Homo sapiens: one gene and its partners. The protein of the gene in region 3 interacts with the protein of the main gene of each other region in a pairwise test. Each region holds a gene or a part of one and is shown on either strand. Other genes may lie near its edges. The genes, in order: H4C5, H4C9 and KMT5A.

Region 1 (2,445 bases), on a different chromosome or scaffold from region 3:
ATGAGTTCCTAAACATTTGTCTCATGTGAGATAAATGCTAAATTTCAAGCTTTAGGGTTTAAAGAGAGTCAAATTCTTTTATTCAAAAAACAGCAAATATCATAACTTCTAAGGGACAACTGGGTTGGCTTAATAGAATTCCGAAATGAATGCTTGCAACCTCTCCTTGCGTGAGCTTATCTACCCCAGGAACTTCTACACACCTAAACTCGGTCGTTAGGTTAAGTAATAGAAAACAGGCCGCTAGAATTTAAGGCCCACACTCCTTTCCAGGAAGATGATTGGTTGCGCTAATTCGCGGGTCCGGCCCATTGCCAGGCACCGGCTTTGTTCTTCGCTCTCCGCCATTTTGAGCGGTTACGCAGTGTCTTGCGGTTTTCCCACTTATGTCGAAAACCATGCATTTTTAGGTACTCAAAATAAAAGTGGTAAGGTAAACAGACACTATTACCCTAGCCTTTTCAGTGCAATCTAAGGCCCTACTACAATAAACATAAAAGGATCGTAGCCTAAAAAATCGTATGCCGAAACCCCAAATGTAATTTGGAACGAAAAAAAAAAAACGGCTGAAAAATATACGTACCTGTTGACAGGAACAATTAACTTATAAAGAGACCAACCAATCGTCTAACAAGTCATGAGCTCTTTTGCGGAAAACTGTGGGCGGCCCTGAAAAGGGCCTTTGATTTGGGAAGTCGAGATGCTGAGTCGTTTAAGCGGTAGCATTAGCCGCCGAAGCCGTAAAGAGTGCGTCCCTGTCTCTTCAGCGCGTAGACCACATCCATCGCTGTCACTGTCTTGCGTTTGGCGTGCTCCGTGTAAGTCACAGCATCACGAATCACGTTTTCCAGAAACACCTTCAGAACCCCGCGAGTCTCCTCGTAGATGAGACCAGAAATGCGCTTGACACCCCCGCGACGAGCAAGGCGCCGGATGGCAGGCTTGGTAATGCCCTGGATGTTATCTCGCAGGACCTTACGGTGACGCTTAGCGCCTCCTTTACCCAGTCCCTTTCCGCCTTTGCCGCGACCAGACATGACCAACACACCAACGAAAATAGCCGCAAAAATCTGAAAAACAAGCGACGGTAGTATTCTTATATGCCGGGAATTCGGACCTAAATGAAGACTGAAAACGCGCATACGGGAACTTTGGTGCTGCCTGCTGGCCCTACCCTTCACAGATCAGACTGGGATGACGTCACCAACGACTCCAGTTCCCGCCGGCAGAGTCCGCTCTCCATGGAGTCATCTCTGCAAGTCTTGCGTTCCCAAAGAGGAAATTTAGGCATATTTTAACAACTAAATGAGATTAAATACATTAACATGTTTAAAATCATTTGCTGCTTGGGATGCTCTAGGACGATTGAACAGGAGCTTTGGCTCACAAGACCGGAACTGCAGTAATCTCCTTCCATGAGGAGTTCAGCTTTGTCCCCATAGGCACGGTTCCTCTGGCATTTCTGCTGCTTGCTCTCTTGGGGACGGAACCCCCTTAGGAAGTGTTTGAAAACTGCAAGATCTCACCCTCTCCACCACCAAGCCAAGGGAAATCTGACCAAAAGGATTTTCCTCCCGAAGAGAAAAACACGGATAATTAGTGATCCCGCCGGGCGTTGTGGCTCACGCCTGTAATCCCAGCACTTTGGGAGGCTGAGGCGGGCGGATCACCTGAGGTCGGGAGTTCAATACCAGTCTCCAACACGGAAAAACCGCATCTCTACTAAGAATACAAAATTAGCCGGGCCTGGTGGCGCATACCTGTAATCCCAACTACTTAGGAGGCTGAGGTAGGAGAATCATTTGAACCCAGGAGGCAGAGGTTGCGGTGAGCCCGGATCACACCATTGCACTCCAGCCTGTGCAACAAGAGCGGAACTCCGTCTCAAAGAAAAGAAAAAAAAATTTTTGATCCCATGAATTCTGGTCCTCGCTGTGGACGCCCGTATTACATTTTTGGCTTATTTTTCTTTCTTCCCTGTTTATTAAAATTTATAATTATCATTTAAATATCTAGCCAACTCGCACATCTAAACCTAGAAACTCACTGGTGTGTTAATGTTTACTTCTCTATTGTTAGTTTTCTGTTCTCTTTGATGCTGGTAGCAGCCTTTATCACAAGAGAATTGGCAACGTGTAATGGGCCAAGTTATTAAATAGGCGACTTCCTACAGGCTTTTAAAATAAAAGGTGTTGGGACTCAGAAAACAATGCTACAAAATGAAGGCCTCCGTAGTAACTTTTTCTCCTTCTCCTACCTTCCTCTTTCTCCCTCCCATTCTTCCCCGAAGCTAGCTATAGGAACTAGACTGCTTCCTTCCCAAGATGGAACATATAAACCAAAGCTAGACTCAAAGCTAGCCATAAAACCTAAAAAATATGAATCCAACTTTCCTTCTGCCTTTTTGTGTAAAAACTGGCAGTAAAGAAATTGCCTGGCCTACCT
Region 2 (2,327 bases), on a different chromosome or scaffold from region 3:
CATTAAAATAAAGAGTAGCAAGAAAATCACCAAATGGGCCGGGTGCGGTGGCTCATATATTCAGTATATGATAATAAGTTCCTCAAATCAGTGGGGGAAATAGTTAATGTATTGTGCTGACTAACCAACTGATTAACTTTTTGAAAAGTTATTTCTATATACAAGAAATCAAGTCCTTATTAGTAAAGTTAGATTACTTTAAATGGTTCTACCCAGCATTAGTTAAGGTTGTAGGCATATCAGGAACTGCTACTGGTGCAGGGGCCAAGAGAAAACCTCCCTTTTGGCCTCTGAAAGTTCACTGAAAATCAACTGACAAGATTAATAAGAGAAAAGGCATACAAATTTATTAAGGTACAGGGCTGAGGACCACAGAATATTACCCCAACCCCCCAGTGGGGTACAGAAGCTTATATACTCTTTCTCAGAGGCAAAAGAGGAGATGGGTAATGTAGACAATTCTTTGAGGAACAGTAAATGATTATTAGAGAGAAGGAATGGACCAAGGAGACAGAAATTAACTTGTAAATGATTCTCTTTGGAATCTGAATGAGATCAAGAGGCCAGCTTTAGCTTGTGGAAAAGTCCATCTAGGTATGGTTGCATTCTCGTCTTCTTTTCTGCAGTAGATAATGAGGTAACCGAAGGCAATTGTGCTTCTTTTGATAAGAAGCTTTCTTGGTCATATCAGGAAATTCCAGAGAAAGTCCCTCCCTGTATTTGGGGAAGAGAAACAGGACAAAGTTAGAGGGACCTTGATTCTTAGACTTGTTTCTGAGAACCCTCAATTTTCAAAAACACCCACCATTACCAAGCTCGATATTTGGGGGGATAATTCTCCACCCCAAACACTAGAAATGAAAATAAGTAGAAAAGAACTTAGCAATATACCTGAACGATCTTTAAATTCTATGAGTCTATCTTGTTCTATTGCTAGGAATTTAGCATATGGAGTATATTTCCATTGTATATTAAGGAGAAAAATGCCACAAAATAGCATAGTTCCATACAAATAATGTTAAAGGAAAACATGCATATATGCAGAGATAACATTCTTTTTGCTTTATGTATCTTCTATAATGTTAACATTTTTGTTATGAGGCAGGAATCATGTTAAATGAAAAAAGGAAAAACAGCCTAGGTCTTGAGGATTAAAAAGGACTGAAGGAGAACAAGAGGGAGTAGAGCACAGCAGGCCTGTTTCCCTTTTAGGTCCCCTCCCCCAATGCAGAGGGACTTCCCGCCAAAGCTCTTCCGGTTTTCAGTCTGGTCCGCAGAGGTTACCCATAAAAGAAAGCTGCCATCACAGGCAGCAGACCTTTGTTCTCTGACCACTTGATAATGTCAGGACGCGGCAAAGGAGGTAAGGGCCTGGGGAAAGGGGGTGCCAAGCGCCACCGCAAGGTGCTGCGCGACAACATCCAGGGTATCACCAAGCCAGCCATTCGGCGCCTTGCTCGCCGCGGCGGCGTGAAGCGCATTTCTGGCCTCATCTATGAGGAGACCCGCGGAGTGTTGAAGGTGTTCCTGGAGAACGTGATCCGGGACGCCGTGACCTACACGGAGCACGCCAAGCGCAAGACGGTCACCGCCATGGACGTGGTCTACGCGCTCAAGCGCCAGGGCCGCACCCTCTATGGCTTCGGCGGCTAAATGGCATTTTGAAGCCCAGTCATTCTCTAAAAAGGCCCTTTTTAGGGCCCCTAAGCTTTCAACAAAAGAGTTGAAATGACTGCAAACTGAGTCTCTTAATAGGGCCATTGTCAGTGAGTTCTGTCATCCTATTTTACAAGATTAACTCGACGCCGAAAATGGGCTGATGACTACAGGTGACCTTGGGCCGAGATTTTTCCAAGGCCAGAAGAGCCTCTGCTGGCCAGTAACTTCTGGCGGCTGCCTGGAAATTGCCTGCAGCCGGTTTACCGCTCGGATTAGTTTAGAAAGCCAAGGGGTCTGCGGTCCAAATAGGGGCGGGCTAGATAATTAACTTCCCTCTGGACCTTCAAATACGTCTCAGGAGATAATGAGTTTGATGGGCTCCACTAAATGCTAGAACCTCCAGGAAAACTTCGTGGTGGCTGGTTTAAGAGGACTTGGCGGGCACAGAGCTCTGCATGGGGGGGAGGGGGACAGACCATGCTTTTACTACTGTAGAACAGTAGGGCAGTCTTAAGAGTCTTAGTAATAATATTCCTTTATATGTTTGCCTTTTAAATACTGGAATATATCAAGTATACAAAATGCGCTGGTGACCACACCACTTATTCAAGTGCATCTAAAATCCTTATGTCCCTTTCTCAGTAGCACAGCCCTCCCTTTTTCCTATC
Region 3 (3,660 bases):
GCTTTGCAGATGAGCACCAAGGAACCACGTTTGTGGAGTGAGGGAACGTTCTAGAGCTGGCCTGTAGTGACGGTTGCACAGCTGTATACACTTCATAAAACCCATCAGCCTGTACATGTAAAGTGAGTGAATTTTATGACATGGCTCAGTACAGCTGTTAAAGACTGGGGTAAGCCCCAGCTCCCCGGAGACCTGCTGTGCACAGTGGCATCCATTGCTATTATGAACCAACACCCTCTCTTATCACCTGACAGATTGACCTCATCGATGGCAAAGGCAGGGGTGTGATTGCCACCAAGCAGTTCTCCCGGGGTGACTTTGTGGTGGAATACCACGGGGACCTCATCGAGATCACCGACGCCAAGAAACGGGAGGCTCTGTACGCACAGGACCCTTCCACGGGCTGCTACATGTACTATTTTCAGTATCTGAGCAAAACCTACTGGTGAGTCCACTGTTGCTTAGAGTGGCTTTTCTGTCCTCTGGGCAGTGAGGAGAGGCCAAAGGGCCAGGAACTCCTGATTCTGTTTGGTGGCCAGTCTTTTGGTTTTGTTGTTGTTGACTTTTTTTTTTTTATTTTTTGAGATGGAGTCTTGCTCTGTTGCCCAGGCTGGAGTGCAGTGGTGTGATCTCGGCTCATTGCAACCTCCTCTCAGGCTCAAAGAATTCTCCTCCCTCAGCCTCCAGAGTAGCCCAGCTAATTTTTTTTTTCTGTATTTTTAGTAGAGGTGGAGTTTTGCCACATTGGCCAAGCTGGTCTTGAACTCCTGACCTCAGACGATCCACCCGCCTTGGCCTTCCAAAGTGCTAGGATTACAGGTGTGAGCCACTGCGCTCGGGCTGTTGTTGCCTTTTTTCAAAGCTGTGATGCAATTATCGCCTGCTTCCTTTTTTTTTTTTTTTTTTTTTTTTTTGAATCTCGATCTGTCGCCCAAGCTGGAGTGCAGTGGCACAATCTTGGCTCACTGCAACCTCCACCTCCCGGGTTCAAGGTATTCTGTCTCAGCCTCCCACGTAACTGGGATTACAGGTGTGCGTCACCACGCCCAGCTAATTCTTATATATTTTTTTAGTAGAGACAGGGTTTCATTATGTTGGCCAGGCTGGTCTGACCTCATATGGTCTGCCTGCCTTAGCCTCCCAAAGTTCTGGGATTACAGATGTGAGCCACTGCGCCTGGCCCCAGCTTCCCTTTTTTTTTTTCTTTTGAGACGGAGTCTCGTTCTGTCACCCAGGCTGGAGTGCAGTGGTGCAATCTTGGCTTACTGCAACCTCCACCTCCCAGGTTCAAGCGATTCTCCTGCCTCAGCCTCCTGAGTAGCTGGGACTACACACACATGCCACCATGCCTGGCTAATTTTTTGTATTTTTAGTAGAGATGGAGTTTCACTGTGTTAGCCAGGATGGTCTCAATCTCCTAACCTTGTGACCTGCCCACCTTGGCCTCCCAAAGTGCTGGGATTACAGGCATGAGCCACTGTGGCCCCAGCTTCCCATTTTTAATCTTTGGAATTGGAGCTGTCCTGGATGTTATCTCATCCAAGGGGAGAAGTGGGCTAGTCACATGAAAACCTGTTAAGCAGCTCACCTGGCTCTCCTTCAGGGCATTTGGCCAGAGCAGCTCTGGAAATCACTAATTGATCTTGCCTGGCTAGGACCAGTGGAGTTGAATTTTTTATTTTTTATTTTATTTTATTTTTTTGAGATGGAGTTTCACTCTTGTTGTCCAGGCAGGAGTGCAGTGGCACGATCTTGGCTCACTGCAACTTCCACTTCCGAAGTTTAAGCAATTCTCCTGCCTCAGCCTCCCAAGTAACTGGGATTACAGGCATGCGCCACCACGCCCAGCTAATTTTGTATTTTTAGCACAGACAGCGTTTCACCATGGTGGCCAGGCTGGTTTTGAAATCCTGACCTCAGGTAATCCACCCGCCTCAGCCTCCGAAAGTGCTGGGATTACAGGCGTGAGCCACCGCGCCTGGCGGGGTTGATTTTTTTAATCCATTTATTTTGTGAAACTCTACCATTTCCTCCTGTGCCTCCATAAAGAGCCCTTTGGGTCCTACCCCATCCCCCCACCCAGGGCCTGTGCAGGCTCTCAAAAATAGCTTTGTGGGCCAGGCGTGGTAGCTCATGCCTGTGATCCCAGCACTTTGGGTGGCCGAGGTGGATGGATCATGAAGGTCAGGAGCTCCAGACCAACATGGCAAAACCCCATCTCTACTAAAAATACAAAAAAATTAGCCTGGCATGGTGGCACACGCTTCTAATCCCAGTGACTCAGGAGGCTGAGGCAGAATTGCCTTACCCCGGGAGGCAGAGGTTGCAGTGAGCTGAGATCGTGCCACTGCACTCCAGCCTGGGCGACAGAGCGACGAGACTCCCTCTCAAAAAAAAAAAAAAAAAAAAAAAAGCTTTGCAAATTGAGCCAGACCTGGTGGCTCGTGCTTGTAATCTCAAAAACTCAGGAGGCCAAGGCCAGAGGATCACTTGAGCCCAGGGGTTGGAGACCAGCCTGAGCAATATAGGGAGATCTTGTCTCTACAGAAACAATTAAAAATTAGCCTGATGTGGTGGCATGTACCTGTGGTCAAAGCTACTCGGGAGGCTGAGGTAGGAGGATGACTTGAGCCCGGGAGGTGGAGGCTGCAGTGAGCCGTGATCGTGCCACTGCACTCCAGCCTGGGTTACGGAGCGAGACCCCCTCTAAAAAGGAAAAAGAAAATAGCTTTATGAATTGAATCTTTTCAAAACACATGGCTTTAAATCAGCATCCCACCAGAGCTGAGCACAAGTGTGACTCTCTTCAGGTTGAAAAGCCTCTTTATCCATTTAATCCTCTCTGGCCCTCCTTCCCCTCCAGCGTGGATGCAACTAGAGAGACAAATCGCCTAGGAAGACTGATCAATCACAGCAAATGTGGGAACTGCCAAACCAAACTGCACGACATCGACGGCGTACCTCACCTCATCCTCATCGCCTCCCGAGACATCGCGGCTGGGGAGGAGCTCCTGTATGACTATGGGGACCGCAGCAAGGCTTCCATTGAAGCCCACCCGTGGCTGAAGCATTAACCGGTGGGCCCCGTGCCCTCCCCGCCCCACTTTCCCTTCTTCAAAGGACAAAGTGCCCTCAAAGGGAATTGAATTTTTTTTTTACACACTTAATCTTAGCGGATTACTTCAGATGTTTTTAAAAAGTATATTAAGATGCCTTTTCACTGTAGTATTTAAATATCTGTTACAGGTTTCCAAGGTGGACTTGAACAGATGGCCTTATATTACCAAAACTTTTATATTCTAGTTGTTTTTGTACTTTTTTTGCATACAAGCCGAACGTTTGTGCTTCCCGTGCATGCAGTCAAAGACTCAGCACAGGTTTTAGAGGAAATAGTCAAACATGAACTAGGAAGCCAGGTGAGTCTCCTTTCTCCAGTGGAAGAGCCGGGACCTTCCCCCTGCACCCCCGACATCCAGGGACGGGGTGTGAGGAAGACGCTGCCTCCCAATGGCCTGGACGGGATGTTTCCAAGCTCTTGTTCCCCTAACGTCTCAACAGGCGCTCACTGAAGTGTATGAATATTTTTTAAAAAGGTTTTTGCAGTAAGCTAGTCTTCCCCTCTGCTTTCTCGAAAGCTTACTGAGCCCCGGGCCCCAAGCA

The links.
Region 1: the proteins of KMT5A (region 3) and H4C5 interact in binary tests that used the Homo sapiens proteins (3 or more experiments, as listed by UniProt).
Region 2: the proteins of KMT5A (region 3) and H4C9 interact in binary tests that used the Homo sapiens proteins (3 or more experiments, as listed by UniProt).

What each region holds. Positions count from the first base shown.
Region 1 is NC_000006.12:26,203,237-26,205,681, reverse strand, and holds H4C5 (histone H4), read right to left. Parts: upstream 1,073-2,445; 5' UTR 1,038-1,072; coding exon 726-1,037; 3' UTR 661-725; downstream 1-660. UniProt on the Homo sapiens protein: Core component of nucleosome. Nucleosomes wrap and compact DNA into chromatin, limiting DNA accessibility to the cellular machineries which require DNA as a template.
Region 2 is NC_000006.12:27,137,968-27,140,294, forward strand, and holds H4C9 (histone H4), read left to right. Parts: upstream 1-1,314; 5' UTR 1,315-1,341; coding exon 1,342-1,653; 3' UTR 1,654-1,711; downstream 1,712-2,327. UniProt on the Homo sapiens protein: Core component of nucleosome. Nucleosomes wrap and compact DNA into chromatin, limiting DNA accessibility to the cellular machineries which require DNA as a template.
Region 3 is NC_000012.12:123,404,630-123,408,289, forward strand, and holds part of KMT5A (N-lysine methyltransferase KMT5A), read left to right. Parts: intron 1-9; exon of another isoform or gene 10-122; intron 123-254; coding exon 255-445; intron 446-2,863; coding exon 2,864-3,074; 3' UTR 3,075-3,660. UniProt on the Homo sapiens protein: Protein-lysine N-methyltransferase that monomethylates both histones and non-histone proteins. Specifically monomethylates 'Lys-20' of histone H4 (H4K20me1).